3 linked regions of the Homo sapiens genome follow. The main gene of each other region encodes a partner of the protein of the gene in region 3 in a complex. Each region holds a gene or a part of one and is shown on either strand. Other genes may lie near its edges.

Region 1 (7,691 bases), on a different chromosome or scaffold from region 3:
GGACTTTCGCTCTTGTTGGCCAGGCTGGAGTGCAGTGGTGTGATCTCAGCTCACTGTGACCTCTGCCTCCCCATTTCAAGCGATTCTCCTGCCTCAGTCTCCAAGTAACTGGGATTACAGGCATGCGCCACCATGCCTGGCTAATTTTGTATTTTTAGTAGAGACAGGGTTTCTCCATGTTGGTCAGGCTGGTCTCGAACTCCTGACTTCAGGTTGTCCGCACGCTTCGGCTTCCCAAAGTGTTGGGATTACAGGCGTGAGCCACTGCGCCTGGCTGCCAGTCTTTAATGATAAAAACTTAAAGTGGAATTGGTGATAGTATTTGCTTTTTTTAGCTTTAGTGATTGCCCTCTAAACAGACATCTAAAGAAAAACTTCAGCTGACTGAATACCGATTAACTGTCTTCTAACAGATGACATTTTTCCTCTGAGGAAAATTTTTAAAAATAATTTTAGTTTTGAGGCCAGGTGCGGTAGCTCACACCTATAATCCTGGCACTTTTGGAGGCCGAGGTGGGCGGATCATGAGGCCAGGATATCGAGACCATCCTGTTTAACATGGTGAAACCCCGTCTCTACTAAAACTACACAAAAATTAGCCGGGCATGGTGGCATGTGCCTGTAGTCCCAGCTACTCGGGAGGCTGAGGCAGAAGAATGCTGTGAACCCGGGAGGCGGAGGTTGCGGTGAGCCAAGATTGCGCCACTGCACTCCAGCCTTGGCGAGAGTGCGAGACTCTGTCTCAGAAAAAAAAAAAAAATTAGTTTTGAAATAATTTTAAATTTGCAGGAATTTGCAAAAATAGTGCCCCCCCAAAAAAAAGTTTCTGCATGTCTTTCACCAAGCTTCTCCCGATGTTACATGACCTTAGTGCAGTTATTGAAACGAAGGAGTTAACATTGACACAGTACTATTAACTAATTTGTCAGTCGTATTTGCATTTCATGTTTTTCCATGAATGTCCGCTTTCTGGCTTAGGCTTAGTCCAGGATCCCCCATTGCATTTCGTCATGTCTCCTTGGTCCCTTCCAATTGGGGGTCTCCTCTGTCTTCCATGCCCTTGACGCTTGAAGAGTAGTCACCAGTTATATGGTAGACTGTCCCTTGATTTGGCTTCGTTGGCTGAAGAAAATAATTTAGCAAGTATTTCACAAGTAGAGATCTCCGTTTCGCTGGTGGGGATGGTGTTGAAGGAAAAGCTGACCTCTACACGTGTTGTTTGCTTCTCAGTTTAATGGCTATGCTGGGAGCCTCTTCTCAAGTGGACCCTACGAGAAAGATGATGAGGAAGCAGATGCTATCTATGCAGCCCTGGATAAAAGGATGGATGAAAGAAGAAAAGAAAGACGGTAAAAGAAATTGTTGCCTTTCACAATATTTATCCAAGTTTAAAAAAAAGTTTTGTGGCCAGGCGCAGTGGCTCACGTGTGTAATCCTAGCACTTTGAGAGGCTGAGGTAGGACGATAGCTAGAGCCCAGGGGTTTGAGACCAGTGTGGGCAACGTAGGGAGACTTAATCTCTACAAATAATTTAAAAATTAGCCAGATGGTACACACCTGTAGTCCCAGCTACTTGGGTGGCTGAGGTGGAAGGACCGTTTAAGCCCAGGAGGTAGAAACTGCAGTGAGCCATGATCATTCCAGCCTGGTTGGCATAGTGAGACCCTGTCTCAAAAAAAAAAAAAAGTTTTGTTTTGAATTGTTTTATATTTGGAGAAAAGTTGCAATAGAGTATGTGTGTCTGCTTAGCTTTTAGGCCACCTGAGGGTCTTGGTCTGTCGTAGCCATGCCTGGATAAGCACTGGGCTGTTACAGAACAGCCTTAGGGCCTGGGGGCTGCAGTGGAGAGCTTAAGAACTCTTAAGTTTTTCCAGAAATCAGCAGAATTTTGTGGATTACTTTTACGATACATCAGGGTTACCATCTTTGAAATGAAAAGGGCCTACTGACTTGATTATTATATGTTGAGTAATTTGCAAATGAATTAAAGATGTTAAATGACACATACAAGCTACCAAGATTGAACCATGAAGAAATCCCAAACCTGAACAGACCAATAAAAGGTAATGAGATCAAAGCTGTAACAGAAAGTGTCCTAGCAGAGAACATCTCAGGATCTGATTGCTTCATTGCTGAATTTTACCAAATATTTGAAGAAGAACTAATACCAATTCTACTCAGACTATTCTGAAAAATAGAGGAGGGAATACTTCCAAACTTATTCTACAGAACCAGTATTACCCTGATACCAAAACCAGACAAAGACACACTGAAAAAAGAAAATGTTAGGTCAGTATCCCTGATGAACACTGATGCAGAAATCAGCAGAATACTAGCAAACCATATTCAACAACACATTAGAAAGATGGTTCATCGGCTGGGCGCAGTGGATCACGCCTGTAATTCTAGCACTTTGGGAGGCCGAGGTGGGCGGATGATGGGTCATCTGAGGTCAGGAGTTCAAGACCAGTCTGGCCAACCTAGTGAAACCCAGTCTCTACTAAAAATACAAAAATTAGCCGGGCATGGTGGGTGGTGTACGCCTATAATCCCAGCTACTTGGGAGGCTGAGGCAAGAGAATCGCTTGAACTCGGGAGGTGGAGGTTGCAGTGAGCCGAGGTCACAACACTGCACTCTAGCCTGGGAGACAAGAGCAAGACTCCATCTCAAAAAAAAAAAAAAAAAAAGATCGTTCATCATGACCAAGTGGCATTTTGCCCAGGGGATACAAGTGCAAGGGTGGTTCAACATATGCAAATTAATCAGTGTTATACATCATATCAACAGAATGAAGGACAAAAACCATATGATCTTTTTTTTTTTTTTTTTGAGACGGAGTCTCGCTCTGTTGCCCAGGCTGGAGTGCAGTGGCGCAATCTCAGCTCACTGCAACCTCCACCTCCTGGGTTCAAGTGATTCTCCTGCCTCAGCCTCCTGAGTAGCTGGGACTACAGTTGCCCGCCACCACGCCTGGCTAATTTTTTGTATTTTTAGTAGAGACGGGATTTCACTGTGTTAGCCAGGATGGTCTTGATCTCCTGACCTCATGATCCACCTGCCTCGGCCTCCCAAAGTGCTGGGATTACAGGCGTGAGCCACTGCGCCCGGCCTAATCATTTTAATTGATTCTGAAAATGCATTTGATAAGATTCAACATTCCTTGATGATAAAAACTCTCAAAAAACTGCATATAGAAGAAACATACCTCAGGCTGGGTGTGGTGGCTCACGTCTGTAATCCCAGCACTTTGGGAGGCTGAGGCGGGAGGACTGCTTGATCTCAGGAGTTTGAGACCAGCCTAGGCAAGAGGGTAATACCTTTTCTTTACAAAAAAATACAAAAATTAGCCAGGCTTCGTGGCACACACCTGTAGTCCTAGCTACTCAGGAGGCTGAGATGGGAGAATTACTTGAGCCCAGGAGGCAGAGGTTGCAGTGAGCTGAGATCATACCACCACACTTCAGCCTGGGCCACAGAGCGAGACCCTGTCTCAAAAAAAAAAAAAAAAAAAAGGGGGGGGGAGCATAACACAATAAAAGCTATATACAGCTGGATGGGGTGGTTCACGCCTGTAATCACAGCCCTTTGGGAGGCCCAGGCAGGCAGATCATTTGAGGTCAGGAGTTTGAGACCATCCTGACCAACATGGTAAAACCCTGTCTCTACTAAAAATCCAAAGATTAGTTGGGTGTGGTGGCTCAGGCCTATAATTTCAGCTACTCAGGAGGTGGAGGTTACAGTGAGCTGAGATTGTGCCACTGCACTCCAGCCTGGGCAACACAATGAGACTGTGTCGCAAAGAAAAAAAAAAGCCACATATGGTAGGCCCACAGCTCGTATCATACTGAATGGGGAAAAACTGGAACGCAACAAGGATGCCCACTTTCACCACTGTGATTCAACATTGTACTGGAAGTCCTAGCTAGAGCAGTCGGACCAGAGAAATAAATAAAAGGGCATCCAGATTGGAAAAGAAGAAGTTAAATTATCCTTGTTTGCAGATGATATGATCTTATATTTAGAAAACCCTAAAGACTCTACCAAAACACTATTGGAACTGACAAATTGATTAAAGTTGCAGGCTATGCCCCCAGGTGTGGTGGCTCACACCTGTAATCCCAGCACTTTGGGAGGCTGAGGGTGGGTGGATCACCTGAGGTCAGGAGTTTGAGACCAGCCTGGCCAACAAAGAGAAACCCTGTCACTATTAAGAATACAAAAATGGCCGGGCACGGTGGCTCACGCCTGTAATCCCAGCACTTTGGGAGGCCGAGGCAGGTGGATGACTGGAGGTCAGGAGTTCGAGACCAGCCTGACCAACGTGGTGAAACCCTGTCTCTACTAAAAAAATTACAAAAGTTGCCAGGCGCTGGGACTCACGCCTGTAATCCCAGCACCTTGGGAGAGTGAGGTGGGTGGATCACTTGAGGTCAGGAGTTTGAGACCAGGCTGACCAACATAGTGAAACCCTGTCTCTACTAAAAATACAAAAATTAGCTGGGTGTAGTGGCACACGTCTGTAATCCCAGCTACTCAGGAGGCTGAGGCAAGAGAATTGCTTGAACCTAGGAGGCAAATGTTGTAGTGAGCTGAGATTGCACCACTGCACTCCAGCCTGAGTGACGGGGCAAGACTCTGTCTCAAAAAAAAAAAAAACCAAAAAACAAAAATTAGCCGGGTGTGGGGGTGCACGCCTGTAGTCCCAGCTAGTTGGGAGGCTGAGGCAGGAGAATCGCTTGAACCCAGGAGGTCGAGGTTGCAGTGAGCTGAGATTGCACCACTGCACTCCAGCCTGGGTAACAGAGTGAGACTCCATCTTAAAATAAAAGAAAATATCCATACTACCCAAAGTAATTTACAGATTCAATGCAATCCGTATCAAAATACTGGGGACATTATTAACAGATAGTGAAAAAATAGCCAGGTGCAGTGGCTCATGCCTGTAATCCCAACACTTTGGGAGGCTGAGGCAGGTGGATCACTTGAGGTCAGCAGTTCGAGACCAGCCTGGCTAAACCCCATCTCTACTAAAAATACAAAAATTAGTTGGGCATGGTGACAGGTGCCTGTAATCCCAGCTACTTGGGAGGCTGAGGCAGGAGAATCACTTGAACCTGGAAGGCAGAGGTTGCAGTCAGCTGAGATCGTGCCATTGCACTCCGGCCTGGGCAACAGAGTGAGACTCCGTCTCAAAAAAAAAAAAAGAAAAAGAAAAAATAATTCTAAAATGTACATGGAGCCAAAAAAGACCCAGAATAGGCAAAGCTATCCTGAGCAAAAGGAACAAAACTGGGGGAACACTTGACTTCAAATTATACTACAGAGCTGTAGTAACAAAAACAGCATAGTACTGGCAGAAAAACAGACACATAGACCAATGGAACAGAATGGACCCAGAAACAAATAGGTACCTCTACAGTGAACTCATTCTTGACAAATGTACCAGGAATATTTATTGGGGAAAAGACAATCTCTTCAATAAACGGTGCTGGGAAAACTGGATATCTATATACAGAAGAATGAAACTAGACCCCTCTCTGTCACCACATACAAAAATCAAATTAAAAGACTTTAAGACCTCAAGCTGAAACTACTAGAAGAAAACATTGGAGAAACTCTACAGGACATTGGACTAGGCAAAGATTTCTTGAGTAATACCCCACAAGCACAGGCAACGAACGGAAGCCAGGTGTGGTGGCTCGCTCCCGTGAGCCAAGAGTGCGCTACTGCACTCCAGCCTGGGCCACAGAGACTGTCTCAAAAAGGAAAAAAATAAAAAGTTCTCATTATAGAATATTAGGAAAATAAGAGTAAGTATGGGTAAAAGCATAACATTTATTCATAAGTCTAGAAAGTAACAGTTAACATTTTGGCTCATTTCCTCTTTCTGTTGCTTTTTTTTATCTTGGCTCACTGCAACCTCTGCCTCCCGGGTTCAAGCAATTCTCCTGCCTCAGCCTCCCAAGTAGCTGGGATTACAGGTGCCTGCCACCACGCCTGGCTAGTTTTTGTATTTTAGTAGAGACGGGGTTTCACCATGTTGGCCAGGATGGTCTCAAACTCCTGGCCTTGTGCTCCATCCACCTCGGCCTCCCAAAGTGCTGGGATTACAGACGTGAGCCACTGCGCCCAGCTCTGTTGCTTTTTATACATGTAATCATAACTTCCTGTGATGTATGTAGAATGTTTTATTTTTTGAAGATAATTTTAGAATAGTAAAATATAGTTCTTCTGGAATTTTATTTATTTTTTATTTTTTTGAGTCTCCCAGGCTCAAGTGATTCTTCTGCCTCAGCCTCCCAAGTAGCCGGGATTATAGGCACGCGCCACCACACCTGGCTAATTTTTGTGTTTTTAGTAGAGACAGGGTTTTACCATGTTGGCCAGGCCGGTCTTGAACTCCTGACCCCAAGTGATCCACCCGCCTCAGCCTCCCAAAGTGTTGGAATTACAGGTATGAGCCACCGTGCCCAGTCTTGCCACACACTTTAAACAACCAGATCTTACGTGATGTAAACTTGCTGCCTCGAGGACAGCACCAGGCCATCAGGGGTCTGCCCTCAAGACTCAAGTGGCCTCCCACCAGGCCCCACCTCAAACATTGGGAATTATAATTCAGCATGAGATTTCATGGGGACACAGATGTAAACCATATCCTTTGGCCTCCCAGAGTGCTGGGATTACAGACATAAGTCAATGTGCCTGGCCTGGACATCTTTTTAGAAGCTCGTTATTAAATCATTGTGCATAAATTTTATACCTATAGTAATTAAACGTGAATGGCATTGCATTTCACTTTTTTTTTTTTTTGGATACAGGATCTTACTCTGTCACCCAGGGTGGAGCGCGGTGGCTTGATTATAGCTCCCTGTAACCTTCAATTCCTGGCTCAAGCGATTCTCCTGCTTCAGCCTCCCAGGTAGCTGGGATTACAAGCACGTGCTACCACACCCAGCTAATTTTTCTTTTTTCTTTTTTTTTTTTTGAGATGGAGTCTCACTCTATTGCCCAGGCTGGAGTGCAATGGCGCAACCTCGGCTTACTGCAACCTCCGCCTCCAGGGTTCAAGTGATTCTCCTGCCTCAGCCTCCCAAGTGGCTGGGATTACAGGCATGCACCGCCACGCCCGGCTGATTTTTGTAGAGATGGGTATTTTTAGTAGAGACGGGGTTTCACCAATGTTAGCCAGGCTGGTCTTGAACTCCTGCCCTTGTGATCTGCCTGCCTTGGCCTCCCAAGGTGCTGGGATTACAGGCTTGAGCCACCACGCCAGGCTCACACCCAGCTAATTTTTGTCTATGTTGCCCAGGCTGGTCTTGAACTCCTGGCCTCAAGTGATCCACCTGCCTCCCCTAACCTTGGCCTCCCAAAGTGCTAGGATTACAGGCATGAGTTACTACACTCAGCCCTACATTTTAAAAATTGATTGGAACCTCCAGGGTTAATGCATTTTAAAAAACATCAGGCTGGGTGCAGTGGCTTACATGTGTAATCCTAGTACCTTGGGAGGCCAAGGCAGGAGGACCACTTGAGTCTAGGAGTTCGAGACCAGCCTGGGCAACATGGTGAAACCCTGTCTCTACAAAAACAAAATTAAAATTAGCCAGTTGCACATGCCCGTAGTTCCAGCTACATTCCCAAGGCTGAGGCAGGAGCATCGCTTGAGCCTAGGAATTAGAGGCTACAGTGA
Region 2 (4,063 bases), on a different chromosome or scaffold from region 3:
ATTTGAAATTTAAATTTTGTATCCTTTTTTTTAAATTTTAGATTCAGGGGATACATGTGCATGTTTATTACATGGGTATATTGTGTAAAGGTGGAGATGGGGTTTCTAGTGTACCCATCACTCATAGAGTGAACATTACCCAATAGGTAATTTTTCAACCCTGAGCCTCCTCTTATACTCCCCCCATTGTAGTCCCAGGTGTCTATTATTTCCATTTTTGTGTCCATGTGTACACATTGTTTAGCTCCCACTGATAAGTGAGAAAATGTGATAGTTGATTTTCTCTTTCCAAGTTAGTTCACTTAGGATAATGGGCTGTAGCTCCATCCATGTTGCTGCAAAGGACATGATTTAATTCTTTTTTATGGCTTCATAGTATTCCATTATATATATATATAATATTATATATTATATATATTTAAATATTTTATATATTATATATCATGGAATGTGTGTATATATATACACACACATTATATATACACTCTATATATACACTATATACAATGTGTAAACAGTAAATGTTATTGTGTATATATACAAAAATGTTACATATGTGTGTATGTGTGTGTATATGTATATGTATATATGAAATATTTCCTTTATCAAATCAACCACTCATGGACACTTAGGTTGGTTCTATGACTTTGCTACTGTGAATCGTGCAATGATAAGCATACACATGCAGGTGTCTTGTTTATAGTTTCATATGCTTTATTTTTTACTGTAGTAAATGAAAAATATAGCCCCATCAAACCAGAAAATTGAATCTTGCTTGAGGACAATAATTAAAATTCTTCTTAAATCATCAAAGTCCAGGGCTTCCTTCAAATGTAAACTTTTCTTTTTTAAAAAAGTGTGTCCTTGCTATTTTTACATACCATCCGTTATCCCCATAATTACATATCACCCTTAAAATATGGCAAGAATCTCAGAAAAAAACATGGACATTCTTAGTAGCCTCTGTAAAATAATTTATTTTTAGGTGTAATAATTAACAGCAATATATCTATAGTATTAAAATTTACAAATCATTGTTAGAACTGAGCAATTCATAGGTAACCAATAAGGGAGGAAAGGAATTAGAAAGCAACCAAGAAAAACAGCTGTAAGAATATGGAGATATTCTTCATATGCAATAAGGTGGCAAATTTATTCAAAAAAGCATGATAAATATAAAGGATGAGTATATTATAATATACATGTGCACATATTAAATGTTTGAAATCACAAATTATGATTTATTTTCTCAACTAAACTGTTACTATAGAATCATAAAAAGGAAGAGAATCTTGATGATTTTTCCATTAGAGTATACCATGTTAGATCTGGCAGATGACTTTTCACTTTTTATAGTGCTCCAAAAATTGGTACACTTCCCTTTGCCTTTTGGAGACATCACTGACTTTGATATTCAGAGTGGTAAAATCATGATATAAAAATTCTTGCCCATTGAAACTCAATTATCCTATTTACTTGATTTTTAGTCCCTTTCTTCATTTTCCTTATTTAGATATTAATCTCTACTAAACAACCATTACTCTATTTAAAAAATTTAAGTCTACAGCTTGAATAATCACAGCTCTATTAATATTGGATATTAGGACCTCCCCGCAATTTTTACTCCTATATGATATCAGAAATATTAGTATCTTCTTCAAGGGAAATGGGAAAATTATGTGAGTTTTAAAAGGGGTTTATATTTCTTTCTTAAATTAGTATTCAGAGTGCCCCATAATTCTGTTCTCATATAAGCATTTCTCCTGTACAATTTAAAATCTGTTTTTTGAGATTAATTTTTTAAATGAGTCTTCTTAGAACATCTTGCTTTGGAGTTTGGGAGTTAAATCCTTTCATTAAATGTTTAAAAAGAATATATATTCTGATGTCTTGGGATAGAACGTTCTATAAATGGCAGTTAGGTCAAGATGGATGAAAGTATTGTTCATGTCTTCTATATCCCTACTGATTTAAGGCTACAGTTTTTAAAGACTGATAGGGAGGGACTTGACGCCAGAATCCTGAAGGATAAAGTAAGGTAAAAAAGTGTGTAGAAAGACAGTATAGATCAGTGCTTCTCAAACTTTAATGTGCATATGACTCACCTGGGGAATTTATTAAAATTCATATTCTGCATTTTATATCAGAGATAAAAAAGAATTCTGTTTGGGCATAGAAGTTGTTTTCACCTGCCTCTGAGATACTTGCTTCTATACTAGCACAATGGCAGCATTGTTGGTTGTTCACCCCATCCCCATTCTTCTCTTTTTCCTAACAGCAACCCTTTTTTTATTTGGAGTGGCAAAATGTCACTATAAAAGGAAAAAAATCCCTCACCTTCCTAGCCTCCCTTGTAGTTAGGGTAACCATATGACAAAGATCTGGCCAATGGCATTCAAGCAGTATATTTTGCCAGTATAGTCTGCTGGTTATAGTTGGGAAAGCATTTATTTTTCCCATATGATAATCTCACTTTCCTATTTCATCTTTCTTTATTCTAATTAGATGGAAAATATGAGTCACGAGATGACAGGCAAATTATTAGAACAAAAGGATGGCAAAGAGAAAATAGTGGCCTGGGTACTGGGTCACTTCTTTGAGTAGGTGCCCCAGTCTGAACTGCCTTGCTTTTCACTTTTCTGTTCTTTTCTCTCGAGATAAATGAACTCCTCCTGCCTGTTAAAGCCACTGGCAGTCAGAGTTTCCAGTGCTTATAGCCAAATACCATTCTAACTGATGTACTCACCAATAATAATCGTAACTTCCTTTCATATGACACTTCATGGTTTCTTCATCAGCATTATGTGTGACACAAGCAAAAACAAAAACAAAAAAACTGCCAATGTATCTATTTCAAGACATCCCCAGAATTCTGTTATTAAATAGCATTGATGAGGCAGTCAGCCAGAATGTTTAAGCTGTCCTAAATTACTGCCTCCTCTGTGTTTAGGGAGTCTGCTCTTGGTCTTACAAGTCCAAAAGCAGAATATTACAAATTCACATAGAAGTGATCAGGATCTAGAGACTTGATTTATGCCATGCAGATTCACAGGGCATTTGTTTATAAAATTTGTGCTGGAAGATTACTTGTGAACTAGGGCCAAACCCTTAATTATGACTAGGGAAACCCAGAAGATAAAGTTGCATTAAAAGCCTGCTTGATGGAAACAGAAACATACAAAAGATGGCCTTACAGGGAAAAAGTTAAAGTGTTACCACAAATGTATACATGAAATGACCAATAATTTTATTTTATATTTCAAATAACTAGAATTGTACAGAGTTTAATTTTACAGCTTTAGGGCAAGGATAAACTCATTTTTATTTTTGCAGTAAAAGGTATAAATATTGAAAATTATGTAGGTTTAAAACTTTACTATGATATAGACACATTCTCAAATTAATGAATTTTACTGAGCTTTTTATATCAAACTTACTGATATTTAATGCAAAATAATAAATATTGAGATTCTTGGTTGTACATTATAAAATGCATCACAGAGCGATTTATTGATGCAAAGGAACCGTTTTGGCTCATGTAAGTGAAAAGTCTAGGAGTCACATCTTTAGGCATCGCTGGATCCAGGTGCTGAAATGATGTCATCAGGCCCAAAATGTCTCTTTATTGCTTGATTCTGCTTTCCTGAGTTGGTATCAACTAGGAGACTCTCTCTACATGCTCCATGGCAGCTCCAGGCTCACACATACTTAGTATTAAGATTTTCTCCTCTTCTTTAATATAAAGGAAATTCAGCTAGATGATCTTTAGTTCAAAATTCTGTGATATATAAATAACTCGAAATAACTGCTAACAGTTAATGAAACATCTGATTCAGTAAAGATAATGGTTATTTACAATTGAGTATTGCATATTAAAAAGTTCATTAAAGGTTTATTTTTATAGTTATTTCAAATTTGCCTTTTGCATTTTTAGTAACTATGAGTGATACAAGCAAAACTACAACCTAGCACAAGTTGAAGTATCACAAATTTCAAGTCAATTGCTACCAAATTAGATTTTAATATAATTTAGATACTAATATTAGTGTATATGTGAAAAGTG
Region 3 (7,691 bases):
CCAGGCTGGAGTGCAGTGGCACGATCTCGGCTCACTGCAAGCTCCGCCTCCCGGGTTCACACCATTCTCCTGCCTCAGCCTCTGGAGTAGCTGGGACTACAGGCGCCCGCTACCACGCCCAGCTGATTTTTTGTATTTCTAGTAGAGACGGGGTTTCACCGTGTTAGCCAGGATGGTCTCGATCTCCTGACCTCGTGATCCTCCCGCCTCAGCCTCCCAAAGTGCTGGGATTATAGGCGTGAGCCACCGCGCCCGGCCTCCTTGGATATTTGTATGAGATTTTACGAATTCATATGCATAAGGCTTTTAGTTTTTTGAAATGAAGTGAGGAATTATTTGCTCTGGTGCCTGGGTGGAACAGCAAGTCAGGAAGAACTATGGAAGGTGGAATGAGATAAACTTATCTCCTACCAGGCCTTAAGGACTAAATCTGAGCCTTCAAAAAGGCCCCAGAAACTATTTATATAAGCAGGAGGCTTTGGGGCCCAGCAACAAAGAACAACTGGGGGCGGGGAACAGAAGAAGAGCAGGTACCAGCAGAGAATTACAACAGAAAAAGACAGTACTGGGCAGAATGGCATTCTTGCCAAAGTTACCAGCAGCAATGGCAGTCATAAAGCAATACCTCAAGAGGCGTTCAGGGAGTAGACTCCAATAAGGAGGCTGGAGCAGAACTTGGCTTATTTCTGAACATGAGAGACAATTCCTGAAAACTAAATTCCTACAACATTAATACTGGTTCTCTAAGAAGCCGGGACTTTTTCAGTAAGTACTCTTCAGAGATAAATAGAAGAAAATTGAAAGATGAGGGTGCTGAGATATGTGAAGGTAGGGCTGGGCACAGTAGCTCATGCCTATAATCCCAGCACTTTGGGAGGCTGAGGTGGGAGGATCACTCAAGGCTAAGAGTTCAAGACAAGCCTAGGCAACATAGTGAGATCCATTTCTAAAAAAAAAAAAAAAAAAAAAAAAAATTAGCCAGGCACAGTGGTGTGGACCTGAGGTCTCAGATACTTGAGAAGCTGAGACTGGAGGATTGCTTGTCCCTAGGAGTTCAAGGCTGTAGCGAGCTATGACTGCGCCACTGCACACCAGCCTGAGCAATAGAGCAAGACCCTATCTCTAAAAAAAAAAGTTGATTAAAAAAAGATAACAAATATGCAGGTGGGAACTTATAAAACAGAGAACAAATACTATGGTTATTATCATCTAATTTGTATGCATAAATTGAAGAATCTGGGATAAGGCAGGATACATGAAAACCTTTTTTTTTAATTTTTATTTTTTGATTGCTCCTTCAGAAGAAAAACTATTAATAGCAATTACCTATAAAGACTGGTCTGAAGAGATCAGCGAATAGGAAGAGACTTTTGTTTTGAGACACAGTCTCGCACTGTCACCCAGGCTGGAGTGCAATGGTGCGATCTCGGCTCACTGCAACCTCCGCTTCCCAGATTCAAGCGATTCTCCTGCCTCAGCCTCCCAAGTAGCTGGGATTATAGGCACTGGCCACCACGCCCCACTAATTTTTGTATTTTTAGTAGAGACTGGGTTTCACCATGTTGGCCAGGTTAGTCTCGAATTCCTGACCTCGTAATCCGCCCACCTCAGCCTCCCAAAGTGTTGGGAGTATAGGCATGAGCCACTGCACCTGGCCTGAGACTTTTTCTTTTTTTTTTTTAAGACAGGGTTTCACTCTGGTGCCCAGGCTGGAGTGCAGTGGCATAGTCACAGCTCACTGCAGCTTCAAACTCCAAAGCTGAAGCAATCTTCCCACCTCAGCCTCTCAAGTAGCTGGGACTACAGGCAGACGCCACCAGGCCAGGCTAATTTTTGTATTTTTTGTAGAGACGGGGTTTCGCCATATTGCCCAGGCTGGTCTTGAACTCCTGAGCTCAAGTGATCCAACCACCTCATCCTCCCAAAGTGCTGGGATTATAGGCGTGAGCCACTGTGCTGGGTCTCAGTAAGTACTCTTCTGTATAATTAGAATTTGTTTCTAATCTTAATAAACATTTACTACTTTTGTAATAATGTACCACTTTTATAATAAAGAATTCATTAATAGAAATAAGCACATTTTACTGCTCGCTTCAGCAGCACATATACTAGAAATAAGCACATTTTAAAAATAGAAGATATATGGCCGGGCGCAGTGACTCATGCCTGTAATCCCAGCACTTTGGGAGGCCAAGGCAGTCGGACCTCAGGTCAGGAGTTCGAGACCAGCTTGACCAATATGGCGAAACCCCGTCTCTACTAAAAATACAAAATTAGCCAGGCGTGGTGGCTCATGCCTGTAATTCCAGCTACTCGGGAGGCCGAGGCAGGAGAATCACTTGAACCCAGGAGGCGGTGGTTGCGGTGAGCTGAGATTGCACCATTGCACTCCAGCCTGGGTAACAAGGGCAAAACTCTCTCAAAAAAAAAAAAAAAGAAATGGAGGGGCTGGGCACAGTGGCTCATGCCTGTAATCCCAGCACTTTGGGAGGCCGAGGCAGGCGGATCACCTGAGGTTGGGAGTTCAAGACCAGCCTGACCAACATGGAGAAACCCTGTCTCTACTATAAATACAAAAATTAGTCGGGCATGGTGGCGTGCACCTGTAATCCCAGCTACTTGGGAGGCTGAGGCAGGAGAATCGTTTGAACCTGGGAGGTAGAGGTTGCGGTGAGCCGAGATCACGCCATCGCACTCCAGCCTGGGCAACAAGAGCAACAAGAGCGAAACTCCATACCGCCCCCCGCCCCCCCGCCCCCAAAAAAAGATATACATGTACTATACCTAAAAGCAAACATGAAAACATTAATACTGGTTTTAATACTGGTTCTCTAAGAAGGCTTCAGGGGTTAAAGAACTAGATAACCATAAAAAATATTCCACTTGAAGAGTGATTCAGTCACATTTTATGAAGCACTATCACATAATTATCTAATTTCATTCTCAAAAACTTGACAATATAGAGAACAATAGCTAAGGCAACAGAATTTGACATTAAGTGTCTTGCCCAGATTGCACAGCTAATAAGCAGCACTGCCCAGCCTCCTAACTTTATATTCTTAAGTCTAGTACTTCCTTCACTATATCCAAAGGTAAATCCAACAACAATTCATTCCCGTTTCCAAGTCTCATATTCATGACTGTGAAATAAATAATTTTCGGTAGAGAATTTGTATTCCTGCTACCAGCAGCACTGTCCACGCACTTCCCCAGATAGCATATACTAAATACTCACGAATTTAATTAAACAGATGATCAGGAAGAATTTACTGCCAACCATTTAAAAATGGATTCCAAAAAGAAACATAAATTATTTAAAACATTATTCACTGATTACATCTTACATTCCATTGCTCCACTCAAATAGTATAAATATTCAGGAGTTGGCTAAAGTTTTACAATGTTTTACAAAGGATCACCTACCTCCCAGACTAGTACACATTTGTTGGTTTTCTTCACAGCTTCCTCATCAGACTCCTCATCATCTGGAAGAGAAATCTTGTTACAGACTTAGACTTGAGATTCAGGTTCTAAACAAATAATATTCAAGTCTACCCAAACTCTCTAAAATATTATCACCCTTTTTATGTGTTGGACCAAGTGTTCTCTTTTCTGTTGCTCTTTATTTTCCCCAAATTAGACTTGAAGCTCCAAGTAGGCAGTAATATTAATTGATACAATTAGCATTTACATAGCACTTGTTATGAATCAAGAGCTCCACCAGGTACTGGGAATAAGGAAATAAAAGACAAGCAGTCAAGAATAAAAACTTGTCCTAGGCACTTTGGGAGGCAGGCTTCATATGTCAACATCATATATTACTCTCAAAAAACTTTCACCCAATGGAGGAGGAGGGCAGATATACCAAATCAAAATTATCGGCCAGCGTGGTGGCTCACGCCTGTAATCCTAGCGCTTTGGGAGGCTGAGGTGAGTGGATCACCTGAGGTCAAGAGTTTGAGACCAGCCTAGCCAACATGGCGAAACCTCATCTCTACTAAAAATACAAAAATTAGCCAGGTGTGGTGGCAGGTGCCTGTAATCCGAGCTTATCAGGAGGCCGAGGCAGGAGAATCACTTGAACCTGGGAGGCGGAGGCTGCAGTGAGCCAAGATGGTGCCACTGCACTCCAGCCTGGGCAAAAGAGCAAAGACTCCATCTCAAAAAAAAAAAAAAAAAAATGCACGTGTAGAACAAAATATTTTTTATTCTCAGGTATCTTAAGATGAACTCTCTGCAGATTTTATTTATATTTTTATTTTTTTGAGACGGAGTCTTGCTCTGTCACTCAGGCTGGAGTGAAGTGGTATGATCTCAGCTCACTGCAACCGCTTCCTGGGTTCAAGTGATTCTCCTGCCTAGGCCTCCCGAGTAGCTGGGATTACAGGCGCACGCTGCCACGCCCAGCTCATTTTTGTATTTTTTAGTAGAGACGGGGTTTCACCATGTCAGGCTGGTCTCAAACTCCTGACCTCAGGTGATCCACCCGCCTCGGCCTCCCAAAGTGCTGGGATTACAGGCATAAGCCATCACACCAGGCCTCTCTGCAGATTTTAAATGCTAATCCAGGTGTTCAAAGATGAGAAGAATGAACACTAATGGGAGTATGATGGCCAGAAGAATGTCTGGCCTTCAAATATAGACAGACAGTCCTTGACTTACAATTTTTTGCCTTGAGTATAGTGTGAAAGTGATAAATATTTAGTAGAAAATGTACTTCAAATTTTAAATTTTGAGATTTTCCTGGGCTAGCAATATGCAGTAAAATACTCTTACATGAGATAAAAATAGGCTTTGTGTTAGATGATTTTGCCCAACTGTAGGCTAATCTAAGTATTCTGAGAAAGTATAAGGAAGGCTAGGCTGTTATGATGTCCTGTAGGTCAGATGTATTAAATGCATTTTTTTTTTTTTGAGATGGAGTCTTGCTCTGTCGCTTAGGCTGCAGTGCAGTGGTGCGATCACAGCTTACTGCAACCTCCGCCTGCCAGGTTCAAGCGATTCTCCTGCCTCAGCCTCCCGAGTAGCTGGGATTACAGAGGTCCACCACCACGCCCCGAATTTTTGTGTTTTCAGTAGAGACGGGGTTTCACCATGTTGGCCAGGCTGTTACGAACTCCTGACCTCAAATGATCTGCTCGCCTCGGCCTCCCAAAGTGCTCAGATTATAAGTGTGAGCCACCGTGCCTGGCCTTAAATGCATTTTTGACTTAACAATATTTTCAATTTATCTCAGGTTTATTGGAACTAACCCCATCATTAAGTTGAAGAGCATATGTGTGAGTATGTACATGTACATGTATGTGTGTGTATTGTGTGTATGTGTATGTGTGTGTACATGTGTGTATGTATGTGTGTGTGTGTGTATGTATGTGTATGTGTGTATATATATATATCAGACAAAAGAAATAGTTTGATCAAAGCAGAGCTTTTTTGACCTGAAGATCTTTTTGGCTTCAATCCTTAAAAAAAAAAAAATCAAATAATAATATAATATAGACACTGTACACATGAATGTATAGCTTACTAGATTTGCTTTTTCTTTTTTTTGAGACAGGGTCTCATTCTGTCACCCAGGCTGGATTGCAGTGGCACGATCACAGCTTACTGCAGCCTCGACCTCCCCAAGCTCAAGTGATCCTCCCACCTCAGCTTCCTGAGTAGCTGGGAATACAGGTGTGTGCCACCACATCCAGCTAATTTTTGTACTTTTTGTAGATATGGGGTTTCACCACGTTGTTTGCCCAGGCTGGTCTCGAACTCCTGGCCTCAGGCAATCTGCCCGCCTCAGCCTCCCAAAGTGCTAGGATTACAGGCATGAGCCACCATGCCTAGCTGCTTGCTGAATTTTCAAATACTGAATAAATTCATGTAACCGGTACTCAGATCCAGGACAGACACAGAAACCAGCTGGTAGAAAAGCCTTAAATGATAGGCAAAAAAATAGCTTTACCATTCATGCATATAATCATGTAGTAAATATTGTATGAATGTCTAGGAGGCTCAAAGTCTAAACGGGTCTTTCTAAAATTCCTGAACACTATCTAGTGTTATCAAGAGTGTCACAGGGAGGAAATAAGATGAACGGACAGATGCACCATCCCCACCTCCCATAGCTCTCCCCCTTAATCCCCTCTAACCCCCATTCACCATCTCCCTTTGTGTTAGATGTCTGTTCATCCCACTTTATCCGATGCAGCATAAGACGCTTAAATTTCTTCTGGGCCTTGGGGCCTGGAAACAGAGAAGAATAATTTTGCCAGAACTGTGGAAGATGATGGGGTAGAAAGAACCTCTGAGCTCAGACATTAATGTGGTAGTTGAAGCAATCTCAGGAACCACATCTTAGGGCCTTCTACTCCAAAAAACACAGAAGCAGAGACCTAGCATATTATATCAGGTATGGCACTAAAATACGATCTTTTTCTCCTTTCTCCCCACAATGCTAATCACTCTAAGCCTAGGGTTGTCTGGGGACAGTCTCCCTCAAGTTTTTCAGACTCACCCCCTTCCACTACTACCACGTTGACATCCTTGTGCAGTACCACCACCCCTGTCAGGTACAGTTGCCCAGCATTGGCTTCAATCTTGAACTTCTTGGCTGGGTTGCTCAAATTTCGAACTCTGGAGAAGGGAAAGTTTAGTTATGTCTTCCATTTTAGCATCAGCAGCTGCCTGAATGGAGTGGCAAGTAAAAAGATGAATCCAAAATGGTTTCCTCTCTATAAACAAAGGCCTCTGGAGTAAACAAATAGATGAATGCTTAAAAGGTAGAGTTGATGAGTCTAGAAATATTTCCACACTCTTACATTTCTTCAAAGTCTAGCACTTTACATTAACCATTACATTACTAACCAAAGTTTACTCTAAGAGTCAGGGAGAGGTATTTACTATCATCCAAAAATACTTACAATCTCATTGTTCTTGACAATGTAAAGACCTACAGACTTTTTGTCCTCTAGACCCTTAGACTCTTATAATATAGGATTACTTGGCTGGGTGCGGTGGCTCATGCCTGTAATCCCAGCACTTTGGGAGGCCAAAGTGGGCAGATCACGAGGTCAGGAGTTTAAGACCAGCCTGGCCAACATGGTGAAACCCCATCTCTACTAAAAATACAAAAATTAGCCGGGCGTGGGGGTGCGTGCCTGTAATCCTAGCTACTCAGGAGGCTGAGGCAGGAGAATTGCTTGAACTTGGGAGGCAGAGGTTGCAGTGCGCTGAGATCGCGCCATTGCACTCCTGCCTGGGCAACAAGACTGAAACTCCGTCTCAAAATAAATAAATAAATAAATAAAATATATATATAGGATCACTATATAGGCATGAAAATTTTCTAGGAGGATATGTGAAAAACTGTTAATAGCAATTACCTAAAGAGAGTGGTTCTAAGGGATCAGAGAATAGAAAGGAGACATTTTGAGTAAGTATTCTTCTGTGTTGTCAGACAATTTTTTAAATCTTAATAAGCATTCACTATTTTTGTGATAATGTACCACTTTTATAATAAAGAACTAGTTAATAGAAATAAGCACATTTTAAAAATAGAAGATACACATGTACTCAACATAAAAGAATAAAAACATTAAATCAACACAAAGGTAGAAAAATATTTACAACATATAAAATGCATTTTGGAGTGAGGATGAAACACAGCAATACATCAGGGTAAGGATATGACTACGGAGGAA

What was found.
Region 1: PRPF3 (region 3) and PRPF6 share a complex: the UniProt entries of both Homo sapiens proteins name them as parts of the U4/U6-U5 tri-snRNP complex.
Region 2: PRPF3 (region 3) and LSM8 share a complex: the UniProt entries of both Homo sapiens proteins name them as parts of the precatalytic spliceosome.

The regions. Positions count from the first base shown.
Region 1 is NC_000020.11:63,983,677-63,991,367, forward strand, and holds part of PRPF6 (pre-mRNA-processing factor 6), read left to right. Parts: intron 1-1,230; coding exon 1,231-1,349; intron 1,350-7,691. UniProt on the Homo sapiens protein: Involved in pre-mRNA splicing as component of the U4/U6-U5 tri-snRNP complex, one of the building blocks of the spliceosome.
Region 2 is NC_000007.14:118,200,930-118,204,992, reverse strand, and holds the end of LSM8 (LSM8 homolog, U6 small nuclear RNA associated), read right to left. Parts: 3' UTR 958-4,063; downstream 1-957. UniProt on the Homo sapiens protein: Plays a role in pre-mRNA splicing as component of the U4/U6-U5 tri-snRNP complex that is involved in spliceosome assembly, and as component of the precatalytic spliceosome (spliceosome B complex).
Region 3 is NC_000001.11:150,344,951-150,352,641, reverse strand, and holds part of PRPF3 (U4/U6 small nuclear ribonucleoprotein Prp3), read right to left. Parts: intron 6,625-7,691; coding exon 6,506-6,624; intron 6,235-6,505; coding exon 6,151-6,234; exon of another isoform or gene 6,141-6,150; intron 3,486-6,140; coding exon 3,424-3,485; intron 1-3,423. UniProt on the Homo sapiens protein: Plays a role in pre-mRNA splicing as component of the U4/U6-U5 tri-snRNP complex that is involved in spliceosome assembly, and as component of the precatalytic spliceosome (spliceosome B complex).